Linked DNA regions of Homo sapiens. The protein of the gene in region 1 interacts with the protein of each later gene in a biochemical or structural test. Each region holds a gene or a part of one and is shown in the gene's direction. Other genes may lie near its edges.

What was found.
Region 2: the proteins of ERG (region 1) and HNRNPH3 form a complex in vitro, tested with the Homo sapiens proteins (one large-scale study listed by BioGRID).
Region 3: the proteins of ERG (region 1) and SNRNP200 form a complex in vitro, tested with the Homo sapiens proteins (one large-scale study listed by BioGRID).
Region 4: the proteins of ERG (region 1) and TRIP12 form a complex in vitro, tested with the Homo sapiens proteins (one large-scale study listed by BioGRID).

The regions. Positions count from the first base shown.
Region 1 is NC_000021.9:38,491,978-38,495,477, reverse strand, and holds part of ERG (transcriptional regulator ERG), read left to right. Parts: intron 1-3,500. UniProt on the Homo sapiens protein: Transcriptional regulator. May participate in transcriptional regulation through the recruitment of SETDB1 histone methyltransferase and subsequent modification of local chromatin structure.
Region 2 is NC_000010.11:68,338,564-68,342,063, forward strand, and holds part of HNRNPH3 (heterogeneous nuclear ribonucleoprotein H3), read left to right. Parts: coding exon 1-124; intron 125-576; coding exon 577-663; intron 664-876; coding exon 877-992; intron 993-2,548; exon of another isoform or gene 2,549-2,610; coding exon 2,611-2,746; intron 2,747-3,021; coding exon 3,022-3,117; intron 3,118-3,195; coding exon 3,196-3,288; intron 3,289-3,414; coding exon 3,415-3,491; 3' UTR 3,492-3,500.
Region 3 is NC_000002.12:96,295,547-96,299,046, reverse strand, and holds part of SNRNP200 (U5 small nuclear ribonucleoprotein 200 kDa helicase), read left to right. Parts: intron 1-79; coding exon 80-232; intron 233-344; coding exon 345-444; intron 445-626; coding exon 627-763; intron 764-1,326; coding exon 1,327-1,410; intron 1,411-1,510; coding exon 1,511-1,684; intron 1,685-1,976; coding exon 1,977-2,114; intron 2,115-2,355; coding exon 2,356-2,511; intron 2,512-3,388; coding exon 3,389-3,500. UniProt on the Homo sapiens protein: Catalyzes the ATP-dependent unwinding of U4/U6 RNA duplices, an essential step in the assembly of a catalytically active spliceosome. Plays a role in pre-mRNA splicing as a core component of precatalytic, catalytic and postcatalytic spliceosomal complexes.
Region 4 is NC_000002.12:229,915,510-229,919,009, reverse strand, and holds part of TRIP12 (E3 ubiquitin-protein ligase TRIP12), read left to right. Parts: intron 1-3,500. UniProt on the Homo sapiens protein: E3 ubiquitin-protein ligase involved in ubiquitin fusion degradation (UFD) pathway and regulation of DNA repair.

The DNA.
Region 1 (3,500 bases):
GCAGCAGCATCAGGGGAAAGCATCTTAAAAATCAGACAGGACATGGAAAGTTACTAACAAGGCTTGGTGGAGACCTGAGGGCACCCTAGTGCTATTTCCATGACTTGCCTAAAGAAGTTACTTTTTTTTGAATTAACAGAGGTTGGAAGGTTTGATGGTAATTGAAACACGACCTGATAGGACTCAATTTTATTAATTTAAAGACATAAAGCTTGCATTATATACGCCACGTCTGCACATTTGCACTTCTTGAACGTTTGCTATCACATGTGAGGGAAACTTAATTAAGACTAAGAGTTATATGAAGAAAGTTAACTCCTCACAGAATTTTGATGGATGTGATTAATGAGTTTAATAGCTACAGATTTATGATTTTTCATCAACCTGTTGGCTAAGTGAAATACGAATTGCGTCAGTCCTTGTTACTTTAGGGGGATTCCGGGAGAATGGAAGGAAGGCCAGGGGCAAAATGCCGCTGCCCTGCTGTGCATAAGTCATTTCAGAGCATGCTCTGAGTGTTTGTCCTTGCCGAAAAGTGGCTTTACAGGCAACTACTTTAAAACAACTTGCTGCTTCCGTTCTTGGTCAGCTCTGTGATCCAGGCTGCCCTCTGTGGACACAGCACAGTTCTCCCTGGCCCTCTGCCTGTGTGTGCATGCACCCATGCATGCCAGGCACCCTGACTCAGTGACCCTGGAAAGCAGGATTGAGAATGGCTCCATCTGTGGGCTTTTCTTCCCCCATGAAATACAGTGCAGGACTGCAATGCTCTCAGACAATGTGCTGAGCCTGAACCATTTCTTAATTATCTACGTTTATAAGTGATTATCTCATAAAGTTTTTGTTTTGCAAAACAGATCTTTATTTAAACACAAACACAGGTTAACAACTCTTGAAAAAGCATACATAAAAATAAGTAAATGAAACAACCATTTCTGTTGTCTTCAGGAAAATATGACTGATACATTTAGAACTTTAGAATAAGATTCCCTCTGTGGGAGTGGAGACCCAAAGCCATTATAGGCATCCCAACAATTTGGCGGATTTATTGGTTTAACAGCTGATACATAAGAGAATCACAGAGTAAGGGCCATGGGGAAGCCAGACGGATGAGAGTTTCTCTGAAATGAGAAACCTCAGAGAAGAGACAGGGACAGTCTCCAGGCTGTTCCAGCGTTTGGTAGCACACTGTGCTCTGGCGGGGTCTTTTCTTTGGAGCTACCTCAAGGAGAGCCTTCTTGTCCCCTCCTTTGACCCCACAGGATAGAGGACAACTGCTCCCTGGCCTGGGGATTCTGTCAGACCACCCCTGATAGCGCTTCTCTCACCTTACGTGGCCGCAGACACACTTGCATTTGCTTCCTTCCTGTTGTGACCCTGGGCAAGGTAGCTAGCCTGTCTGATCTCAGTTTCGTCACCTGTAAAATGGGATCATAATGGCTACCCTGTCTCGCACCCATCCTCAATAAATGGCAGATGCCATCAGACGCCCCCCCGCGGATGTAACCTTTTCTACCGTATTGTCTTTCAGGCTCTGCACTCACTCGTCTCAACATTTCCCACGGCCCAGCTTCAGCTGTGAAGCCCACAGCCATAGACTGCTCTGATGTGCGGCCTCCCACACCCAGGCAGGGTACATCTGGGTCTGGGCAGCCACAGGACAGGGAAGGAAGGAGGAGGGAGCTTGCAGGGGTGCTTGTTAAAGGTGTAGCAGGGCAGGTACCACACACAGGGGCAGGTGGAGCGTCCAGGGGTCGCCCGAGGTGGTGCTGGTCAGAGAGGGTTGGCTTCGTCCTGTTCTGAGCCGAGGCTGCTGGAGGAGGGCAGAGGCCTATGACTGCATCGTGCTCCTGGTTAGGGCAGGAACAGCACCCTGGAATACCCCACTCTCCTCTTTACTCCTGAATTACAAAAAATACATCTTGTTCTTTAGCATAAATTATAAACATAAAAAATTCTTATGGTAGAGAAAACGTTTAAAAGTCATCACAAAGTCAATATAAATTGTTCAGATCCTAACCAACCACAGCAAATTCCTAACAATTGGGATATGTCTCTCCACCGTGTGTATCTGTTTGGCCTTGTATCTACCTACCTGTCCTGCTCTTCTCAGTTAGCATTGTTTTACAAGCATTTTCCCATGTTACTAACATTTTTTGATAAGCAAAATTTTTGTTTCATTATATTCTATCTAAAATATGTATTACCATTTTATAACCAATATCCTAGTGTATAAAGTGATGCTGCTTGCGATGTTTCACTCATTATATTGCAGTACACCATCTATTTAATTTTTTGAATACTTTTTATTAGTATTGGTGCCTAGAAAGGAATTATTGAGCCAATGGGTATATATATTTTTTAAGTCTTTGCCAAATTTAAATATTTGCCAATTTAAAAAATAATTACCAGATTATTCTCTGGAAGGATTATACCAGTTCTCCCTTTTTCTAGCCACATATGAGACCAGTTCCACACTACACCCATAACAACTCTGAATATTTTACTCTTTGAATCTTTGCCATTCTGACAGATAAGAACAGAATCTCATTTTTATTTGTACTTCTTTAATTTTAGTATTTCATTACATTTTTTTGTTTGTTTGCTGTGAACCCATTTTGGCTAGTGGTCCACTGTGACCTCTGGATTTTTTTTCTTATTTATACTTTTATTCTCTGTTTGGTCTAGCTTACTTTCCACATATTTCCCCTACTGAGCTTGGCCAAGACATGTTTTATAAAATTTCACATCGATTCCCATCTGTCCACTCTCCCACTCTTCATTTTCTTTCCTGTCAGCACATTCTCCCAGCTTTGCTTGTGTTTGTTGTTGAGTGTGAATAATTTATGTATACCCACTGATATCGCAGAAGCTGTTTTTAGTGATATCTTATCCATTTCTTCTGTGTCCTCAACAGTGACTGGCAAAGAGTAGAGGTTCAATAAGCACTTGTTGAAAACATAAACTTAAATTTTAATTATTTGAAATCATAAAGAGGAAGTTAAGATATCAGAGTAATGTAATTATCATTGTAGACTTCAAATAGAATTCTTATGTTTTTAGAGACATTTCTCCTAGTAAAATAACGTTAATTAAAATTGACTTAAATTGATGTTTAAGAAAGTATAAAAAATGTAGCTGTAGTATCTTGAATTCATAATCCAAACTAACATCATCCTAATAACTGCTTGTTATGTGCCAAGTCCTGTGCTAAACTCTCATAATGTCTCATGTGATCCTCACAGCAGCCTGGGTACTGCTGCTTTCTTACAGATAAGGACAAAGGATTAGAGAGGCGAAGTATCTTATACAAGTCACACAAATCTGTCTCCCTTCTCTTTATCATCTGATCTCTTTTTTCCTGCTATTCACCCTAGCTGTACATAGTGAATTACTGTGCAGAGAAACATGATGTATTAAGTGTTATGGAGACACATGAAATAATTGGATAATGAAAATTATTATCGCTGGTTACTTTATGTTATCTACTCTTCTGGGAA
Region 2 (3,500 bases), on another chromosome or scaffold:
AGATTGCTGGGACAGCGACCGGGACCATATGATAGACCAATAGGAGGAAGAGGGGGTTATTATGGAGCTGGGCGTGGAAGTATGTATGACAGAATGCGACGAGGAGGTGATGGATATGATGGTGGTATGTGTATCTAATGAACAAAGGTTCTGTTGTCATTTTCTTAATGTTCCTGACACTTTGTCAAGAAATACAGAAATGGCAGTAATTTCAGTACCTATTAGGTTTTAAAACCTGTTCATGAAAATACGGATTCCCATGGCTAGCTGTGGGACTTGACTGATGCACATATTGGCACCTAGAAAACTTACACAGAAATTAAAATTAAGATGTTGGCATATTTTGACCTTTTTTTGCCTAAGGATGAAATTTAATTTACATGTCTGAACTTAATTAACTTTCTGAGATTTTAAATTTCCATCACGTTGACTGCTTTTTTCATAGGTTTTAAGTTGGGAATTGCAAACTTGCAATCAAGTTACACAGACTGTTACCACAAAATGTTTTTGTAAACTAAATTATAAAATTTATCTCTGGAAAGTGTGTAGTCATGTGTTTCTCCTTAAATTACACAGGTTATGGAGGTTTTGATGACTATGGTGGCTATAATAATTACGGCTATGGGAATGATGGCTTTGATGACAGAATGAGAGATGGAAGAGGTAAAATAAATATTAAAGACATTTTTATTCATAGGTAAATTTTAGTATTTGCTTTGCAAGCTCTTAGTGGTAATATAGGAAACTTGTATAAAGTTAATTCAGACAAATTTCAGTGCATTCCTATATAGAGCTTTATACCTTGTATAGTATGTATGTATACTTCCCTACTTGTATCTGTAATAGTTTATAATCTTGGCAAATTGTGTTTTCCAGGTATGGGAGGACATGGCTATGGTGGAGCTGGTGATGCAAGTTCAGGTTTTCATGGTGGTCATTTCGTACATATGAGAGGGTTGCCTTTTCGTGCAACTGAAAATGACATTGCTAATGTGAGTAATTTTTAATAACTATTAGTGGTTTTATACTTATCCTGGTGTCTAAATCTTTAAGCATTCTTAATGTTCTCATGTTTATAGCTTAATACCAAAATCCCTTGAATATAAAAATAGATCTACCTTTAATTCTTTTTTTGAGATGGAGTCTTGCTCTGTCCCCCAGGCTGAGTGCAGTGGTGTGATCTCGGCTCACTGCAAGCTCTGCCTCCCAGGTTCACGCCATTGTCCTGCCTCAGCCTCCCGAGTAGCTGGAACTATAGGTGCCCGCCACCACGCCTGGCTAATTAGATCTACCTTTAATTCTAATCACTGATGGATATTTTTGTATCCATTGTGTGTCAACCTACATAGGATTCAAACAAGTAAAAAGCTACATTCGTGAAGTCCAGTTAAGAGTATAATGAAAGACTGATCAGCATAGAATGGTGATGACTATACCATTTTGTGCTGGTGTCTTTTGTTGTACCGTTTTTTGTTTTGTTTTCTTTTTTGAGACAGAGTCTTGCTCTGTCGCCCAGGCTAGAGTGCAGTGGCGCGATCTCGGCTCACTGCAACCTCCACCTCCCGGGTTCAAGTTATTCTTCTGCCTCAGCCTCCTGAATAGCTGGGATTACAGGGGCACACCCCACCACTCCTGGCTAACTTTTTGTATTTTTAGTAGAGATGGGGTTTCACCATGTTGATCGGGCTGGTCCTGACCTCATGATCCGCCTGCCCTGGCCTCCCAAAGTGCTGGGATTACAGGCGTGAGCCACTGCGCCTGACCTGTATTAGGGTTTGAAAGAGTGAATATATAAATATTAGTGATTTGGTTTGGCTTTCTAGGCTAGATGGTGATTAGAAACTGAGGAGTTGGAAATAACAGGAATAGATGCTGCTGTTGTCACTGATGTGAAACTGGTTGGTTTCAGATTTGTTAGGAGGTCAGCAAACTTCAGTCCATGGGCTAAATCCGGTCACACCATTCCTCTACCTGTTGAGTGGTTACATTAGAGACCCAATGGCCATTCAGGCCAAAAGTACTGACTCTGGCTTTAAAAGCAATGGTGTGCTCTAGATCTTACTGGGAATCAGCTGGCCTGAGTTCCAACTGCTTTTAATGATAGTTTAAAACCTGGCTAACTTGTGATTAGAACCAAATGATATCTTTTGGGGAACAATTTCATATAGTCTTAAATAGGTGGCTTTATTCAAACCGCATAGTTCCAAATCATGATATCCCGTATTTCTCTCTGTGTGTTTGTGTGCTTTTTTTTTTTGACAGTCTCCCACTCTGTCTCTCTGAGGCTGGAGTGCAGTGGCGTGATCTCTGCTTACTGCAGCTCCCACCTCCTGCGTTCAAGCGATTCTCTGTCTCAGCCTTCTGAGTAGCTGGGATTACAGGCGTGAGCCACTGCGCCCTGCCTATCTGCTTATTTTAAAAGCAGTAAATTCTTTACATTATCCCTAAGTGTATACTCTGATATTCACAGAACCTCTGTAGTTGACTAAGTTATTAGTCTGACAGGGCAGTGGAAGGGTTTGTTTTAATTGATGAGGAAAAATCAAGGTATGTGGTAATTTACTTTAATATTCTCAATAGAAAAGTAAATAAGTGTTTCCTTTTATTTAGTTCTTCTCACCACTAAATCCAATACGAGTTCATATTGATATTGGAGCTGATGGCAGAGCCACAGGAGAAGCAGATGTAGAGTTTGTGACACATGAAGATGCAGTAGCTGCCATGTCTAAAGATAAAAATAACATGCGTAAGTGGTGTCTTTGGCACACAATCTTATTTCCTAAACGTGAATTTATAAAATAAGAGGCTCTAAGATCTGTAGGTAACGCTTGGCAGTTGTTGGGATTTAAAACCATTTGACCTCTATAATGGCTTTCTGTGGGCTTTATATATCGCTGTACTAGTAATTAATAAGCATACTTTGTTTAATATTACTTAATTGATCTTTTTTACAAAGCTTGTATTGATGAATTTTATCCATCATTCCTTTCTCCCCTGTTACTCTTTCTTTTTTTCTTAAAGAACATCGATATATTGAACTCTTCTTGAATTCTACTCCTGGAGGCGGCTCTGGCATGGGAGGTTCTGGAATGGGAGGCTACGGAAGAGATGGAATGGGTATGTAAAGTTTTTAAAATATGCAGGGTTAGCTGCTTATCGATGAGTCTCAATTTTTTTTCTTTTTTCTTTTTAAAGATAATCAGGGAGGCTATGGATCAGTTGGAAGAATGGGAATGGGGAACAATTACAGTGGAGGATATGGTACTCCTGATGGTTTGGGTGGTTATGGTAAGTATCTCTAGTTCAGTTTGTGTTAGTCCGCATATGTAGTGCAAACTTTAAAGTGCAGGTATTACTTTTATTATTTTATGCAGATATCTCCTGCTGAGTGATTCTTAATATCTTTTTCTTAAGGCCGTGGTGGTGGAGGCAGTGGAGGTTACTATGGGCAAGGCGGCATGAGTGGAGGTGGATGGCGTGGGATGTACTGAAAGCAAAAA
Region 3 (3,500 bases), on another chromosome or scaffold:
GAACTTGGTTGCAGGGTGGTGGCAAAGTGATCGAGGCTGGCAGAGACCTGGTGAGCTAAATGCCTGGTTACTTTTATAGCTCGTAGCCTCAGGTGAACTGATGAGTTCCAAGAAGAAGGATTTGCACCCTCGGGATATTGATGCATTTTGGCTGCAGCGGCAGCTCAGTCGTTTCTATGATGATGCCATCGTGTCGCAGAAGAAGGCAGATGAAGTATTGGAGATTTTGAAGGTATGGCCAAGATGACAATAGTTGTATATTTAGTGTATCTTAGCACATGGGGACAGCGTATGAAGTGGCAGATGGCTTTGGCCTTAATGGTGGTGTTACCTGCTCTCTGCAGACGGCCAGTGATGATCGGGAATGTGAAAATCAGCTGGTTCTGCTGCTTGGTTTCAACACCTTTGATTTCATTAAAGTGTTGCGGCAGCACAGGATGATGAGTGAGTATATGGTGGGGTCTTCCTGCAGAGTGAGTACATATGTGTGCATGTGTGACATAGAGATTCTGTTGTTTTCACAGCCTAAGTGCTTGTTTCTTTTATTTTTCTTCTTTCTACCCTGAGGATGGTTTTTTGCCTTATTTCCTCCTCCTCACTTCCTTTGTTCCTTTTGTTGTGGGTAGTTTTATACTGTACCTTGCTGGCCAGTGCACAAAGTGAAGCTGAAAAGGAAAGGATTATGGGAAAGATGGAAGCTGACCCAGAGCTATCCAAGTTCCTCTACCAGCTTCATGAAACCGAGAAGGAGGATCTGATCCGAGTAAGGACTGGGTTGGTTTATCTGTCTGATTTCTGAGCTAACGGTGGCTAGAAGATTGCAGCATGAAGCTAAATTCATGTTAAAAGTGGAAGTTGAAAAAGTAATTTCCTAAATTCTTTGGGGTTTATCAGTGCATACAGGTTAGAATCAACACATCCACATTGGTTTGGTCATGAGACCAGTGACCTGCTGCTATCTTTCACCAGCACTGTGGGGACCTTTATTGTTTATTTACACAGTAAATCCATGGTGTTTACTAAAATAGAGTAACAGAACACATGTACTTGCTTAATGGAACCCACCCTTCGACCCCTCAGGGGTAGCCCTTGGTACTTAATTATAGAACGTGTATTTGTGGCATCCTTGTACTGCGCATTGCCCCTTTAAAAGTGTTTGTTTGCTTTGATCATTCTGGTGGTCCCCATGTAAAGCACTGTCTTTCTGTTTCACGACTTACTAGTCAGCACCTGTGACTCAAGTATTAGCTAAGCAGGGGCAGAAAAGGACAAGAACCTATGATACTGATGAATTGTTTTTGTGATTTTTATCTTTGTCCACTACAGGAGGAAAGGTCCCGGAGAGAGCGAGTGCGTCAGTCTCGAATGGACACAGATCTGGAAACCATGGATCTCGACCAGGGTGGAGAGGTAGGATCCAGGGCGATTTATTTCCCAGGCCTTGATGGATGGAAAACTCACTTGCTCGGCTTGCTTACTTCCTTTGTGTTTTTGTCTTTCACATTCCCAGGCACTGGCTCCACGGCAGGTTCTGGACTTGGAGGACCTGGTTTTTACCCAAGGGAGCCACTTTATGGCCAATAAACGCTGTCAGCTTCCTGATGGATCCTTCCGTCGCCAGCGTAAGGGCTATGAAGAGGTGCATGTGCCTGCTCTGAAGCCCAAGCCCTTTGGCTCAGAAGAAGTAAGTGAATTGCTTTCTTCAGTTCTCTGCTCAGTTCACCTCCTGGTTTGGATTTCAACCATTGACCAAAATGTAGCCTTGTTTCATATATAGTTTATTTCAGGGCTGAAAGCTGCAACAGAATTTTCCCATTCTGATTTTGAGCCCAGGGGACAATATTGATCTCTGGACTGACCTTTAATGGAAAGTTATGCAAAGAGATTGCCAGGGAACAAAATCCTGGCAATCCCACAATAACGTTTTGCTCAAGGATGCTGCCAACATGATATTGATGGCACTTCTTTTCTTCTAGCAACTGCTTCCAGTGGAAAAGCTGCCAAAGTATGCCCAGGCTGGGTTTGAGGGCTTCAAAACACTGAATCGGATCCAGAGTAAGCTCTACCGTGCTGCCCTTGAGACGGATGAGAATCTGCTGCTGTGTGCTCCTACTGTAAGCGCCACCCTGCCTGCTGTTTTCTTGTAGAATATGGTGTGGAGTTTCCGTTGCAAGATTGTTTTTTATTTCCACCCCCACCCCCTAATTCTTTGTCCTTTGATGGAAGAGAGGTTAAATAGTAGGATAAAGTGCCCAGGACAAGCTCTATTCTCTATTTGGGAAATAAGCCCATGGAAGTTAGGGCAGTGAGAATAACCAGGTGAATAGGCGTTCTCATCCCTGACCTCTCCCGTAGGGTGCTGGGAAGACCAACGTGGCCCTGATGTGCATGCTCCGAGAGATTGGGAAACACATAAACATGGACGGCACCATCAATGTGGATGACTTCAAGATTATCTACATTGCCCCCATGCGCTCCTTGGTGCAGGAGATGGTGGGCAGCTTTGGAAAGGTGAGGGAGTAGAACTTTCCTGCAGAGGATACTGGGTGCACCTATGAAAGTGTTGTGGACAGGCCTGGACCTCACCGCTTCTTGTATTAGGGCATCTCTGGCATGCCTCCTGGGATTGTTGTTATTTTTTATTTTTCTCTCCCCATTTCCAAGATGGAACTTAACCCAGGTACAGAGTTTCTGAAGTAAGAATGTCCTGAGCCATCTTTTACAAGGGTTAGCATCTTTCTTTCATCCTCTCCATGGCAATTTTCTGCAGTTCGTATCATTTGTGTTATTGAAGTGTTTATGAAACATCAAATGGATGTGGATGATAATAGACCTAGTGGTGTATTGTAGGTCTTCTTATCTACAAGTTGCCATTTCTTCCTCTTGTGTACAGAGTTCCCAGAGGTCTTTTTTTTTGAGACAGGGTCTCGCTGTCGCCCAAGCTGGAGTGCAATGGCACAATCATGGCTCACTGCAGCCTTAACTTCCCAGGTTCAAGTGATCCTCCCACTTCAGCCTCCCTGGTAGCTGTGATTATAGACATGTACTACTAGATTAGCTAATTTTTATATTTTTTGTAGAGACAGGGTTTCACCATGGTCTAGAACTCCTGGGCTCAAGCATTCTGCCTGCGTTGGCCTCTGAAAGTGCTAGAATTACAGGCATGAGCCACCATGCCTGGCCCCCAGAGATCTTTTGTCTGCTTTATTTGCCTGAGTTAAATTTGGATTTGTTTGAGGAAGATATGTTCATAAGATCTGATTCGCCTTGTATTCACCTGATGGGTTGATACCTGCTCCCAATGCCCTACACTCCAATTGCCCAAACAGAAAGCATGGTGTCCAGGCCCCTTCAAGCATTCCTGCCTGATGTAGTTTTCCTCCCACAGCGCCTGGCCACTTATGGCATCACTGTTGCTGAACTGACTGGGGACCACCAGCTGTGCAAAGAAGAGATCAGTGCCACTCAGATCATCGTCTGCACCCCCGAGAAGTGGGACA
Region 4 (3,500 bases), on another chromosome or scaffold:
AGTTAGTAGCTTTGTGACCTTGAGCTAGTCACTTAACCTATCTGGTCTTCATTTATTTTATCTGTAAAATGGGAGTGGGTAATCTCTATTTTACCTCACTGGGTGGTTGTGAGACCCAACAGATGTAATGACTGAAAAAAAACAACATGCTAAATAAATTAATTTTAGAAAATTACATGAGCTGTTTTGAGGTCATTTTTAAAAGATACAGCTTCTCATTAGTCGTGGTGGTCCATGGGGCAGGGGAGAATTAATGTAAACTAGGTTGAAGGTACAGAGTTATAGAACTTCATAATTTGAAATTGCTGCTTAATTGGTAGTAGAATTTGGGTCTCATTTTTGTCTTTTTAAAGTTACCTTCTTTTTTTGGTATCAGCATGCCAGATACTTGTTTGCCATACATTCTACTGAAAAAACTTGTTAATATGTTTAAAGAAACTTCAAATTCATTTACGTTTTTTATTGACAAAGTACCTGTTCTGGTTTGTGACTCTAATGAAATTGACTTAATGTAAGAGATTACAATTAGGGAATAATGCTTCTGAATCTTGGTCACTGTTTTCTTTACAGAACCTAGGGAACTTTCCCCCCTTTTAAGTGGATGGGTAGGGATCTTTTTGAGCAAATGTGATACCAGTTGCTCCTTTATTTTTTTGTTTGCTATTTGATGGACTCAAGTCAAAACAGCAACCTACTTGGTTTTTTAATCTTCACTGAAATCATTCCTTGCAATTGCCTGTTTGACATGGACTTTTCCCTCATTTAAATCAAGCAAGCACCCACTATGTACAGAAAAACATAGAAGATAAAGGATGTGAAGAACAACTTACAACTCATGTCTTCAGATCACTTCCTCGAACAAGTTTCTACCTGTGATCTTTGTATTTCTGATTAACTGTACTTGCTTCGTTTCTGCATTACAGTATTGCATTTGTTGACATGTGTTGCTTTTGTTTCCCTGATTGGACTGTAGGCTTCCTGAGGGCAAGGATGATTTCATGTCAATGTGGTATGTGTGAAGGTATACTAATAAACCTGATTGGTCTGGGTGAGGTGGCACTGGAGGTGAGGACGTGGGAGGATCGCTTGAGGCTAGGAGTTGTAGCCCAGGCAACATAGTGAGACTGTCTCCACAAAAAAGAAAAAAAAAGTTAGCTGGGCATGGTGGCATGCATCAGTAGTTCTAGGCAACTTTGGAGGCTGAAGCGGAAGTATTGCTTGAACCCAGAGATTTGAAGTTAATAGTTATGATCATGCCACTGGACTCCAACCTGCTTGGAAGGGTTCTTTGACCCCAGCAGATTCTTCAGAATGCTTTCTCTTGGTTGGTTCAGTGATCAGGGCCTCTTCACATCTCCCCTGACTAACGTGCCATTAGAGTGCCTGGATGGATATCAACTGTCACTGCCATGTTTTAGTGTTAAGCCAGTGGATTATTCTGTGCCACTTTTTTCATAGGCCAAGCTTTAGTTAATAAGGCCAAGCCTGAGGAGAGTCCAGGCCAGATAGGGTGGAAGAGTAAAAATCTGGTGGATGTTACAGAATAAATATAATTTTTAGATTGTTGTATATAATCTTAGTGCTTGGTAATTTTTTTTTTTTTTTTTTTTTTTTTTTTTTTTTTTTTTTGAGACAGAGTCTCGCTCTGTTGCCCAGGGTGGAGTGCAATGGCGCGATCTTGGCTCACTGCAGGCTCCGCCTCCAGGGTTCATGCCATTCTCTTGCCTCAGCCTCCCGAGTAGCTGGGACTACAGGTGCCAGCCACCACGCCCAGCTAATTTTTTTGTATTTTTAGTAGAGATGGGGTTTCACCTTGTTAGCCAGGATGGTCTTGATTTCCTGACCTCGTGATCCACCCGCCTTGGACTCCCAAAGTGCTGGGATTACAGGCGTGAGCCACCGCGCCCGGCCAGTGCTTGGTAATTCTTAACGTGTAGTGTAATGTAAGCTTTACTTGTGTATTTTCTTTTGGTACTTGTGTATCATTTCAGCAGCTGTGTTACAGACTTGAAGACATAACCTCAAAGCAGTTGTTCTCTACCTCTCTGCTGGGTTTCTCTGTGCATAATGGATGCTTGCTGTTATTTGTAATAAATAGATAAGTATACCGATGCTAGACCTGTCCCTTGATTTTTCTTTTTTTTTTTTTAAGTAAAATTTAACTCTGCTAATGTCTTGGGTTTTTTAAAAATGTAGTTCTTTAATATCCTAACTTACTGATAGTTTTAGGTTATTGGCAAAAAGAGGTTTCCTAGACTGAAATAAGTCTGTTCAGTCATTTTTCTCTGAGGCCTTTTAGATTTTGGTTGTTTATTGTGATTTCAGTGATTTCATTAAACTGAATTGGATAGAAGAAAAAGGAACTTACCCATTATTCAGGCTTACCTGCTTTGTCTTGAGAGTGCAGAAGCTATTGGCAGTAGTCAGTTTCATGGTTATGCTTGTTCGTTTGTTGAGACAGAGTCTCACTTTTGTCACCCAGGCTGGAGTGCAGTGGCGCGATCTCGGCTCACTGCAACCTCCACCTTCCAGGTTCAAGTGATTCTCCTGCCTCAGCCTCCCAAATACTGGGATCACAGACGGGCACCTCCACACTTGGCTATCATGGTTATGCTTGATTTAAAAAGTCATTCAAATGGTCTAGAGTGAAAAATACCTGCTACTGTGTGTTTTCCTTAATAGCACTGTTCAAGTGATTATCTGATTTGAAGGCAAGACTTAGGTTCCAATCCTGGCTATGCATTTCCCATCTTTGTAACCTTGGGCAAATAATTTAACTTAGTACTTTGTGAGCTTCAAGTGCCTAATCTGAAAAATTTGATTATTACCACCTAATGTAGAGTCAGTTGTCATTTATATGCTAGACATTCTGTATTTAGATTAGGCTCCACAGATGAATTGGAACACAAGGCCCTTTCTCCACTTGTTTACAGTACTGTGGACCATTGCCTCATTTGTTAAAACTCTTTTAACTCGAACATACCTCTGTTATATGCATAGGTATCCTACTTGAAACATTTGACCCAGTGGCTCATGCCTGTAATTCCAGAACTTTGGGAGGCTGAGGCAGGAGGATCACTTGAGCCCAGGAGTTTGAGACTAGCCTGAGCAACTTAGTAGAGACCTTGTTGCTACTAAAAGTAAAAAATTAGCTGGGCATGGTGGCACATGCCTGTAGTCTTCAGCTACCTGGGAGGCTGAGGTGAGAGGATTGCTTGAGCCTGGGAGATGGAAGCTGTGCTGAGCTGTAATTGTGCCACTGCACTCCAGCCTGGGTGACCGTGAGACCCTGTCTCAAAAAATTTTTTTTTTTTTTTAGTATACAATAGTATTCCTTAGTTGATTATGAATTCTTTAAAGTCTTTAGCCCTCACCCTTTTTTTAACTTTTATAAGGACACTAATCCCAAGTAGTGTCCCTTTTTATCTCTGCATCTAGCACAGTAGCTGGCCCATGATAGGGATTAAGCGTTTGTTGACAGAATAAGTCTTGTGAAAATA